2 linked regions of the Homo sapiens genome follow. The protein of the gene in region 1 interacts with the protein of each later gene in a pairwise test. Each region holds a gene or a part of one and is shown on either strand. Other genes may lie near its edges.

Region 1 (5,258 bases):
TGAATTTCATGTTTAAAACAAGAAAGAAATCTTATTTTAAGGTTGTAGAGGCCGATTTTTTTGATAAAATGCTGGCTAGACAAATGTCCTTTTATCATTTCCATGAAGAAAGGTTTTCTAACCATTGTTCTCAGCAACATTATTACTTTTTAAAATGTTTTAATGTAATTGTGCTTAGGAATTATACTGTTGTCTCAGTTTCCCTCCTACTCAACAGCTGGACATATTTATTTTTTTTTTTTTGAGACGGAGTTTCACTCTTGTTGCCCAGGCTGGAGTGCAATGACACTATCTTGGATCACTGCAACCACCGTCTCCCGGGTTCAAGCAATTCTCCTGCTTCAGCCTCCGGAGTAGCTGGGATTACAGGCTCCCACCACCACGCCCCGCTAATTTTTTGTATTTTTAGTAGAGACAGGGTTTCACCATGTTGGCTAGGCTGGTAGCGAACTCCTGACCTGAGGTGATCTACCTGCCACGGCCTCCCAAAATGCTGGGATTACAGGTGTGAGCCACCACGCCTGGCCAAGGCAAAACTATTTTTATCAATCACTACTGTTCAAAATACTGATATTTTTGGATATAAAAAGTATATTGTTATATGAAAAGAATGATAAAGGTGTTCTGTTTATTTGAAAGCACGGTTTAATTAAGATAACTCAAAAAGGCAATTGAGCAACAAAAGTCTAGATAAGGGACTGGGAACTTAGTTTTAAAAGAATTCTTTTTGACTAAGTTTCACTGGATGTCAGCATGATGTTGGAATGGGACTTTTCAATGCTCCTTCCTTTACAGAATCACTAATTTGAACAATTATCCATGCACGAAAATGCCTTCACAAGAGCTAAGGAAACCAGGTGAGAGATTACAGCACTTGGGTAGATTACAGAAATAAGAAAAGACACATTAAAGAGGGTAGGAAAGATAGTGTCACATTGCTCATGGACCTCTCTCCCAAGCCTAGATAGCACAGCCTGGAGACAGATACCCTCCCTGTGAAGGAAAGAGAGGGAAATGACCATAGAAATTAGCCTTGGACCCAACACTGGATGCCCTTTCTAAGTAGAACCCAGCACCGAGCAGGCCCCCATGGCCTCAGACTTCAGACCAGTACCTGAAGACTGAGCTTCCAAGTCTGCTCTGGCACCAGGCCGGATCTGACAGCCTCTGGCTCTAGGCCAGCCCATCAAGTCTCAGCTCACTGCCCCTCCAGGCCTGCCCAGTAGCCCTAGTGCTAGTTCAAGCCCCACAGACTCAGGCTAGGCCCAATAATCACACTCGGTTTCCAGAGTTTCTCTAGAGCTAGGCTGGCCCCAGTGTTCCTGGGCTCTGGATCCCCCCAACACCAAGCTGACCCCCAGGTTTCAGGCTTGTCCAAGAACAAGGTGAGCTCCACAGCCATAGTCATCAGGGAAGGACCTGTGGACTCAGCCCCGAGGCCAGCCTCGGTGGATACAGGCTCCAGGTTCACTCAGTACCTGGCCAGCTCATGTAACCCTAGGCTCACCTTTATTCCAAACCTATGTTTTAGGACCCATAGCCTTTAAAGGTTCTTCCCTCTTGTCCATTACACCACTTTACCAATCACTTCAATGGCAAAATTTCCTTCAGTTCTTGTATATCAGCTTAGTAGAGTCATAGAGTAGAATACAAACATTGCTACATATATAACTAGCAAAGGGCTTAAATCTAGAATATATTTTAAAATTCTAATAAATAAATAAGAAAATGCTAGGTAATTCAGCAGAAATATGAAAAAAAGACCTAAGCCACTTGAAAGAGTGAATAAACAACCTCTTTAAAGTGCTCATCCTCACTTGCAATCAAGAAAATGCTAATTTAAACCACGATAAACTACCACCATACATTCAACAGAACATTCAAAATTTGAAATCTATCCAACAGAAGATTATTCAATATGCTTCAAGAAACAGTACAAGAATGTTAAGAGCAGCCAAATTCTCCCTGTAGCAAATAACCTATATGATCATATAAAGTTTATTAGATAAAGTGAATGCTATGTATTAATGAAAATCAGTACTGCAAACTACATCCAACCACAAAGTTCAATTTTATGAATATAAATTTAAAAATCCAGAAACAAACAAACTGTATGATTCTCTCTAAGATACACACACACACACACACACACACACACACACACACACAGTGCTCCTCAATTCATGATGGAATTATGTCTTGATAAAGACATTTTGAGTTGAAAATATCATCAATTGAAAGTGGATTTAATACACCCTACTGGCAGAACATCATAGCTTAGCTTACCCTGGCTTAAACATGCTCAGAATACTTACATTAGCCTACAATTGGGCAAAATCATCTAACATAAAGAGTGTTTTATAATAAATTATTGAATATATCATGGAATGTGTTTGATAATGTACTAAAAGCATAAAACAGAATTGTTGTATGACTATTTGTAATATTGTATCCACTGAACGTATGTCTTTTTTGCACCATTCTGAGGATGAAAAATTGAGTCAAATTATTGTAATTCGGGGACTATCAGTATAAACAGTCATGTGCTGCAAAACAGTGTTTCAGTCTATGTTTAGATACATAAATACTTACCATTATGTTACAGTTGCCTAAAGTATTCAGTCCAGTAACAGGTGCCATTTTGTAGATCAGGAGTAATAGGCTATACCTTACAGCCTAGGTATGTGATAGGTTGTACCATCTAGATTTGTGTAAGTACAGTTTATGGTGTTCGCACAAGGACAGAATCACCTAATGGCACATTTCTCAAAACATATCCCTGTCCCTAAGTGACACCTGATTGTATACACATATGTACACATTTATTTGTATGTGTGTATATATATATTTGTGTGTATATCTAGATTTATACATATTTTATGTGTATACATGTTCAAAAGCAGGCATAAAAAATGCATAATTGAGGTATACAAATATTAATATAAAGCAAAGTAAGAAAGTTAGTGTTTAATTCAAGACAGTGATTACTCTTAGGGAAGAGGGAGGGGGTTATGATGTGGCATGAGGGTGTGAAGCTTCTAGTAATATCTTGTTTCTTGATGTAGGTAGTAATCTCATGGCTATTTCATTTACAGTGCTACATTAGGCTCTGCATTTATATTTTGTGTTCTTCTCTCAGAAGGAAATACCCCTTGTGATATGTTGCTTTGTGAACAGAACTATGCTGAGGCTAATCCAATTATGAAATGTACCTTTCATATCTCAGGGTAAATATGGGCTTGAAATATTATTATTACCATTATTCATATTACTATTACTATTTGCAAATAAAATACAATTATTAGCAAAGATAACTGCATAAAGTGCTGTCTCCTAGATGACTGAGTACACATCACTGCAAATCCAGAGTATGTTAAAAGGAATATCCTCTGATAGTGTAGTCTCAAAATCCTCAGTTATTTTAAATTCTTGCTGCAAAATTTGTGGGTAATATTACTACTTTATATAAAATGATATATATGTATTTTATTTAAAAAGATGGACACGAAAATGGTTAATTACAGAATAAAAAGGTTTTTGAGATGAAAGCATACTTACAGACATCAGTGATAAGGACTTGGTCATTTTTATCCACCTTCTGAAATATGTCCAGCAATGCATGCTTATATTAGTCGAGTAATGGTAGATATGTACTTCCTAAGACAGTCTCCTCCAGAATTTTTATTAAACTTTTTAATTAATTTAAAAATTATTATATAGATTCAAAACCTGGCTCTCCAGTGATATGTGCTATGTATCTGTGGAGATACAGAGAATAAATGAATATCTGCAACTACAGATCAGAACTTCTGTTAGTGACAGAGAGACCTTCTATCTAGGTACATACATCATTCCTTATACTTGTGGAAGTTACAAAGTCGAAGAAATTATGCTGTAAAGTGAGATTAGAGACATTTTTAAAAATTTTCTATAGCATTGGAAACTTCAGGATGAAAGAGAAAAATGGCAAAGTAGAACTAGAAAATTATGAGCCTTGCTGAAATGTTCACTATGTCCACAGCTTGTGGTTATTTACTATCTCCGTATTCTAATCACCCCAAAGTGTCTATTTTTTTAGCAAAACTTCTCTTGTGCTTGGCTCTAGGGTGCAAATCCAAGAGGAGATGAGATATTTAAGGAAAATAAAATTGTATCTTTCAATATTTTAGAACTGCTCAAGTCAGGTTAAAAAGAACAATGGAATCTTAAAAAGGAAGAGAACATTTACCACAGAACAGTACTAAGAATAAATAATAAATGAGAGGATGGAGATCGTCCCACTCATATCCAATGGTTCTAGTCAATGTACAAGACAGACAGAGGAAGATTAATACATTGCAAGCCCTTCAGAAATCCCTTATTGAGTCACTACAGAATTATTTAAACTGCATAAGAATGGAACCTCTACAGTTTAGGAACTGTATACTTGTTGGTTTCCTTGATTTTCTCTGATATGGACAAAAAAATTAAAGCAAATATCCATTTCCTTTATTTCTCCTCTGTTGTCTGTGATTACTCCCATGTCTTCTTTTAAATCTTGGGAGTTCCCACCTAGATTACTAATTCCAGCTGTTCTTGCCTTCTTTCAGCCAGAAGTGAAGGGCACCATATCACCTTTAGTAGGTGGAAGTCATGTACAGCGATTGGAGGTCGATGTAAAAATCAATGTGATGATAGTGAATTTAGGATTTCATACTGTGCAAGACCTACAACTCATTGCTGCGTGACAGAATGTGACCCTACGGACCCAAATAATTGGATCCCAAAGGACTCAGTAGGGACTCAAGAATGGTACCCTAAAGACTCACGTCATTGAAGAAATCCATGCACAAGAAGATGATACATCTGAATGAAGTCCTCTCATTATTTCATCACTTCATTAATGACCTATAATTTCCATGCATGCATACCTATAATGAATAAATAATTAAATAAAATATATTTCAGCTGGACATTTTTATAAACATTGTGCTTGCTTAGAAGAAAGAATCAGAATACAAAGCAGGGATTTGAACTCTGGAATAGAAGCAGCGTGGAGAAGAAAATCCATGATGGGACCGCTAAGTTTAGTGAGATTCTGGGGCCAATTCCTTATTTAGTGTGAAAAGCATATTATGAGTCATTAGTGAGGTATTATCAAGAATTCTTTGAGGAGACTCAGGAGTGGGGACAGAGTTGATAAGAGATGTGACCCCTGAACTAGTAAAAATCGTTGCAAGAAATTTGAAGGATTATGAAATCCTCATAACTTTCTCATA
Region 2 (5,524 bases), on another chromosome or scaffold:
TGATGTTGACGCCATTGTTGTTCTTTAATTATGGGCATAAATAAGTAGGAAATCCTTTATAGTAGCTCCTTCCTAAATATAATTTATATTCAACTGTTGGTTTATTCCCTTTCCTTTAGAATTAGATTTTTTTCTCACTAATCTCTTGAGTTGACACAGATAATTATAACATATGTTCCATCACTGACTAGTCCAGTTTAAAGAATAATAGAAAATGTGAGTTCAAATATTCTTGAGCTATTTGTAAGTTACTCCTTGGATCACATTTTGGGGCTCAGTAAAACCATTTCTTTGCAATTTAGATAAAGCCAGACCTATGAAATTCAGAAGGAAAATTCAAGCTGAAGGTTCCTATATAAAATAATCCAAAAGGACAAATTTTAATGCATATATTGCCAAGTATCAACTCTCCAAACCTCACAATAAGGCACAGATAGTTGCATGAACTTAGTCTATTTGAGGACTTAGTATCTTCAAATTGATCCCAAACAGTTTAAGAGCGTGGGCTTAAATGAATCTATCTTCACTTTATATATGTCAAATTATTCTTTTTAAATATTTATTTTCAGCCTACCCCTCTTGTATTCCCATGGAAGGAGCTGAGTATATTTAATATTAGGAGCACATCCAGAAGTCTTTGAAGAGGGGGATGGCTCTTCATATTCATGAAGCTTGCATACTTCTGTTGGTCATCCCTGGATTGGTCACCTCTGCTGCTATCAGTCATGAAGACTATCCTGCTGATGAAGGTGACCAGATCTCCAGTAATGACAATCTGATCTTTGATGACTATCGAGGGAAAGGGTGTGTCGATGACAGCGGCTTTGTATACAAGTTGGGAGAACGATTTTTCCCTGGGCATTCCAACTGTCCATGTGTCTGTGCTCTAGATGGACCTGTTTGCGACCAACCAGAATGCCCTAAAATTCACCCAAAGTGTACTAAAGTGGAACACAATGGATGCTGTCCTGAGTGCAAAGAAGTAAAAAACTTCTGTGAATATCACGGGAAAAATTACAAAATCTTGGAGGAATTTAAGGTATGCGTTACCCTCCATATTTATTGAAATATCAACTTTTCATACCACGTGCTTAGTACATTGCTACATTAAAGTCAGAGTTGGAAAAATGTACTTTAAAATTTCCCTTTAAATTATACAATTTGATTCTAATTACCATAAGTAGCACCATGGTCAACAAATGGCCAACTGGTTTGTTGATCATATTTGTTAAGTTGCACAATAACCTTTATTTTTTTTCCCAGAAGTATTTGGGGCATACCTAACACCTTTTATTTTTGCCCTTAAACATTTCTTCTCTGTTATTACAAAATATGTTTTCTGATGGGAACAATTTTGTGTATAGTGTATGTGTCTCCTAAATTAATTTTTTAATTGTGTCAGTTTTGTGTGTTGCTTATTAGCCTGTATTTGAAGTCATTTAACAATATAGTCTAGAATTATTTGTTTATTGTGTGGAAAAGCTACAGAGATATACTTCTTAGCTGTGGTCCTCATATTAAGAAAATGCATTGGGCCTACTTGTGGTCAAGCAAGATCCCCATTCTGTTCTCTGCTCGCTGGATTTTTTGCTTTCAGGATTCCACAGAGAACTGAATTTTTATCACAATCCATGTAAAGAGTAGTAAAAAAGACTGTAATTTTTTTCAGCCTACCTGGTATTTTTTAGTTTTTCTTTTACGCTTGCGTCATATTTTCAAAGTAGCTTAGAGTTCATTTTTATCCCTTATTGAACTTTCTTTTCCCCAATGGCTAGTTTTAATTGGGATATCCTACAAGCCTGATCTGAACCCTGAAGGTATGAATACATGAAAAATGTCCACCTTAAATGTAATGGCAGTTTGTGCCTGGAGTGTCTGTCATACTGATGGCTTTATATAAAATGTTCCCATTTCATCTAACCAAGTTCTGTGATGAGGTGCTCAGAACCTTAGAGGTAAAAGCAGATATAGCTAGTTTTCAGTGTGGGTGTTTATGTATGAGAGAAGACATTTCCATTATTAGCACTGACCCAACTTCTCTCACCACAAGGGTCAAATGGTGCCAGAAATCAGTATGTAGAAAAAAGGTCTCAACTGATCATCATTAGCATAATCTGTGTATTCATAGTTAATTGTATTTAGTTCATTATTAACCTGGAATGAACCAGGTTAGCGGTTCAAGCCAGTTCTGATTTACCCAAGAATACCCAGTCATTGGAACTAGATTCCTTAGGACAAAAGGGAAATTTTAATTGTGACATTCAACTTCCTTAGACATGTTATTCTCGACTTTTGTCTTTCGTGTATTATTTTATTGCACAAAATTAAGAAGTAAAAGCATGAGAGTCTAGTAAAAGTATCATTGTTGACACCAAATAATAGTTGAGAGTAGAGTACATTTATTAATGGTTTTATGATCTCTAAAATATTGTATATATTTTGACATTACCTATTTTTAATGTCATCTTAATGGAAGTAAGTAGAAGTACTCAACACACTTGATTCTAGCAGTCATATCACCCTTTTCTAACCTGCATTTATATCTAGACTAGAATACAAAAGGGTATTGTAGGAACAGCGTTTCATAACTAGCACAAATAAAAACATAAGTTTCTGAGATTTATATAATTTGGTAATCTGTATTTAATAAAGAAAATATTGTCTAACTTAACTCACTATTGAAAATGCTATAGTTTTCCCTCTATTTATTAGATTTTACTACAAAGATAATAACTATGTTACCATGTCAAACAATATAGAGGTATTTAAAGAAAAAGTTAATAATTTCTGTACCCCTTCTCGTTATAACCCTACTATAATCTAATTAATCCCTACTACTTCTTTCCTAATGTATGATCCATTAATATGCACAGCTTTTTCACCTGGCTTTTTGTGTCATAAAATTTTTGATGTGATTTTTAAAATAATAGATATCACTTTTTTTAACAAGAATTTAGAGTCATAAAGAGTTTTAGAGACTATATAGGGCAAATGTGTCAGAATGAGAAACTGAGACCAAAAAAGTATAAATTACTTATCCAAAATTGTCAAGTTATTTATCTTAATTCTAAATGCTGCCATTCTAACATACTATATGATCTCTCAAAGCAGTTTGTCACTAAGGTCAGATAGACTTGGATTCGAATCCCAAATTCATCACTTGGATATAAATTTTTGAATGGAGTTCTTAAACTTTTTGATCCATAGTGGTATTGACCATAAAATAGCCATTGTAATAATCACTTTCCTTAGGAGGAGAGGTTGGAAATTCTTAATAACATATAATTTCTCTGAAGTCACTAACCTTGTGATGACGGGTACACAATAGGTATTAAATAAATGATTGTCCCCTCCTTCTTAACTCTAATATCCAGGGATTTACTCTAAATTCTAAATTCCTCTATGGCTTTGCCTACATTTTATAATGAAAGTTCAACTTTAAAAGACTTTCAAATGAAGAATTCTCATACCTTTTTAAAATGCTCTACTTATCCCTATGAACCATACAACTCTAAGTAAATATTAGCCATAATCTGTCATCTTGATTCTCTTCCAACTCAGCTTGCAAGGAACAAGTCATTAATTATTAAAGATGCATAAAACTTTCATATAATAATGTTGATATGTCAATTAGGGAGGTTGTATTATGAGATAATCTTCACATAAATATATTCATCCAACAAGCATTTATCAGACCGTTCAGTAGATAAGATACTGTAGACGTACTTACAATTGAAAGTAGGATATCTAGAAACCAAAATCTCTGCTCACAAGAAAGACATGATCGATGTGAAGAGAGAAGGGGGAAAAAGCAGGTAAAAGTTAAGTATATGATTATGAAATCCCAATATAACTCCCAAGAGATTGTGATGGCAGAAGCTTATCAAAATAGTATGAGGCTTGGTTAAGCAAGAGATTTGTCTTCAGGATGCTAACCCTATACATCTTGTAGAGCTGCCTGTTCTTCAAGAAGTACTTGAAATTGATCTGGGAAGACTGAAATTCCAAAGACGAAACTGCCAGAGCAAAATCAGAGATTGGGATGAATACAGTCTGCAAAGAGGAGGGAGATGGGTATAATTGGAAGCTAGATATGACTAAAATGCTATCCTAGTAAGAGGCAAATTCAGATATGTGTCGGTGGAGAGTGGATGGAAGGGCCTTGAATACTGGGCCAAAATATTTAGATTCATCTGAAGAATAATAGGAAATAAAATGCGGATTGTTCTGTACATAGATGACCTAGTTAAACATAAATAAAAATGAATGTCCTATATCCAAGCACAGAATTGAATAGAAGTAAAGAGAAATTAATAGTGGAGGAAGGAAGTCTGTTGCAGAAAAAAAGAGAATGAGGTGCACAAGCACAAAGACATTCAGGACAGTTTTCAGGGTAAAATCTAATTTCCCTGCTGTAGCCTAGATTCTACTCATCAACCTCTCCAAATCCCTCAAACTCTTGGTGGCTTTTTTTCCCTGTGTGTTTGCACTGCTGTTCCACAGTATGGAACACTTTTTCAACATTGCTCCCTGTTTAAATCCTACTGGACCACTTCAAGGCTCCATTTAAATCTCACCTCAACTGGAAACCCCTCTCTGTCTGTCCTACCTCATATCTCCCACACTGTATCACTCCTTCCGTATGTTCCCACGGCCTGCTATACACACCATCACTACAAGAACAGTAACTGTTGTCTGATACTGTGAAGAGCTTTATGTATATTATAACACATTTTATTTTACAATAACACTGTGAGAATTATACTTTTATTAGCACTGTTTTACGGATAAGAAAACTGAAGCAGCAGAGTGTAAGTAACTTGTCCAAGACCATACAGCTGGAAAGAGGAAAAAGTAGGACTCCAAGCCAGGCAGCTTGACTGCAGAATCTAAGCTCCTCACCACTTCTAGTGATCTACCCCACAGCAATAATGTAATACATCACACTGCAATAATATTAAATCATGTAAAATATAATATGAAATAATATCATATGAAACCACTCGTCTCTTCCATTAGTCATTGAACCCTTCGAGGCTAGCGACACTGTTTTCTTTTTTCTTTTCCCCTCTATTCCCAACACCGTGTGAGCTATGTAACAGTCATTTAATACCTTTTTTGATGAATAGCATACCAGGTCAAATTGTAATCAAACCTATAGGATAAAGAAGTTAGAATTTCTTTAGAATGATTTAGTTTCTGTTTATGTGTTGATCTCTTCATTTTAATTAAAGAAGCACTGAAAGTTGAGACAAAAAATGCTCTTTGGGCAGTTAAAATGGCACACATTGTTCTCTTATGATAAGACTGCCTATTTTCGTCCTGCCTTTACTTTCTTCCTCTCTCAACCCCTTCCTCACCAAGGGTTGTCTTGGATTCTGTCTCCATCCCAGCATCGCAATGACTACCCAGTGTTTTAGCTGTACTGTCTCACCCTATGCAGTTGCAAATCATAGGTCACACTTCAATATTTTCTGATCACCAAATTCAAATGTAAATTGATCCACATGTGTCACCTGATAGG

Evidence for each region.
Region 2: the proteins of DEFB112 (region 1) and VWC2L interact in a two-hybrid assay, tested with the Homo sapiens proteins (one large-scale study listed by BioGRID).

What each region holds. Positions count from the first base shown.
Region 1 is NC_000006.12:50,043,133-50,048,390, reverse strand, and holds part of DEFB112 (beta-defensin 112 precursor), read left to right. Parts: intron 1-4,589; coding exon 4,590-4,816; 3' UTR 4,817-5,258.
Region 2 is NC_000002.12:214,413,545-214,419,068, forward strand, and holds part of VWC2L (von Willebrand factor C domain-containing protein 2-like isoform 1 precursor), read left to right. Parts: intron 1-569; 5' UTR 570-649; coding exon 650-1,039; intron 1,040-5,524.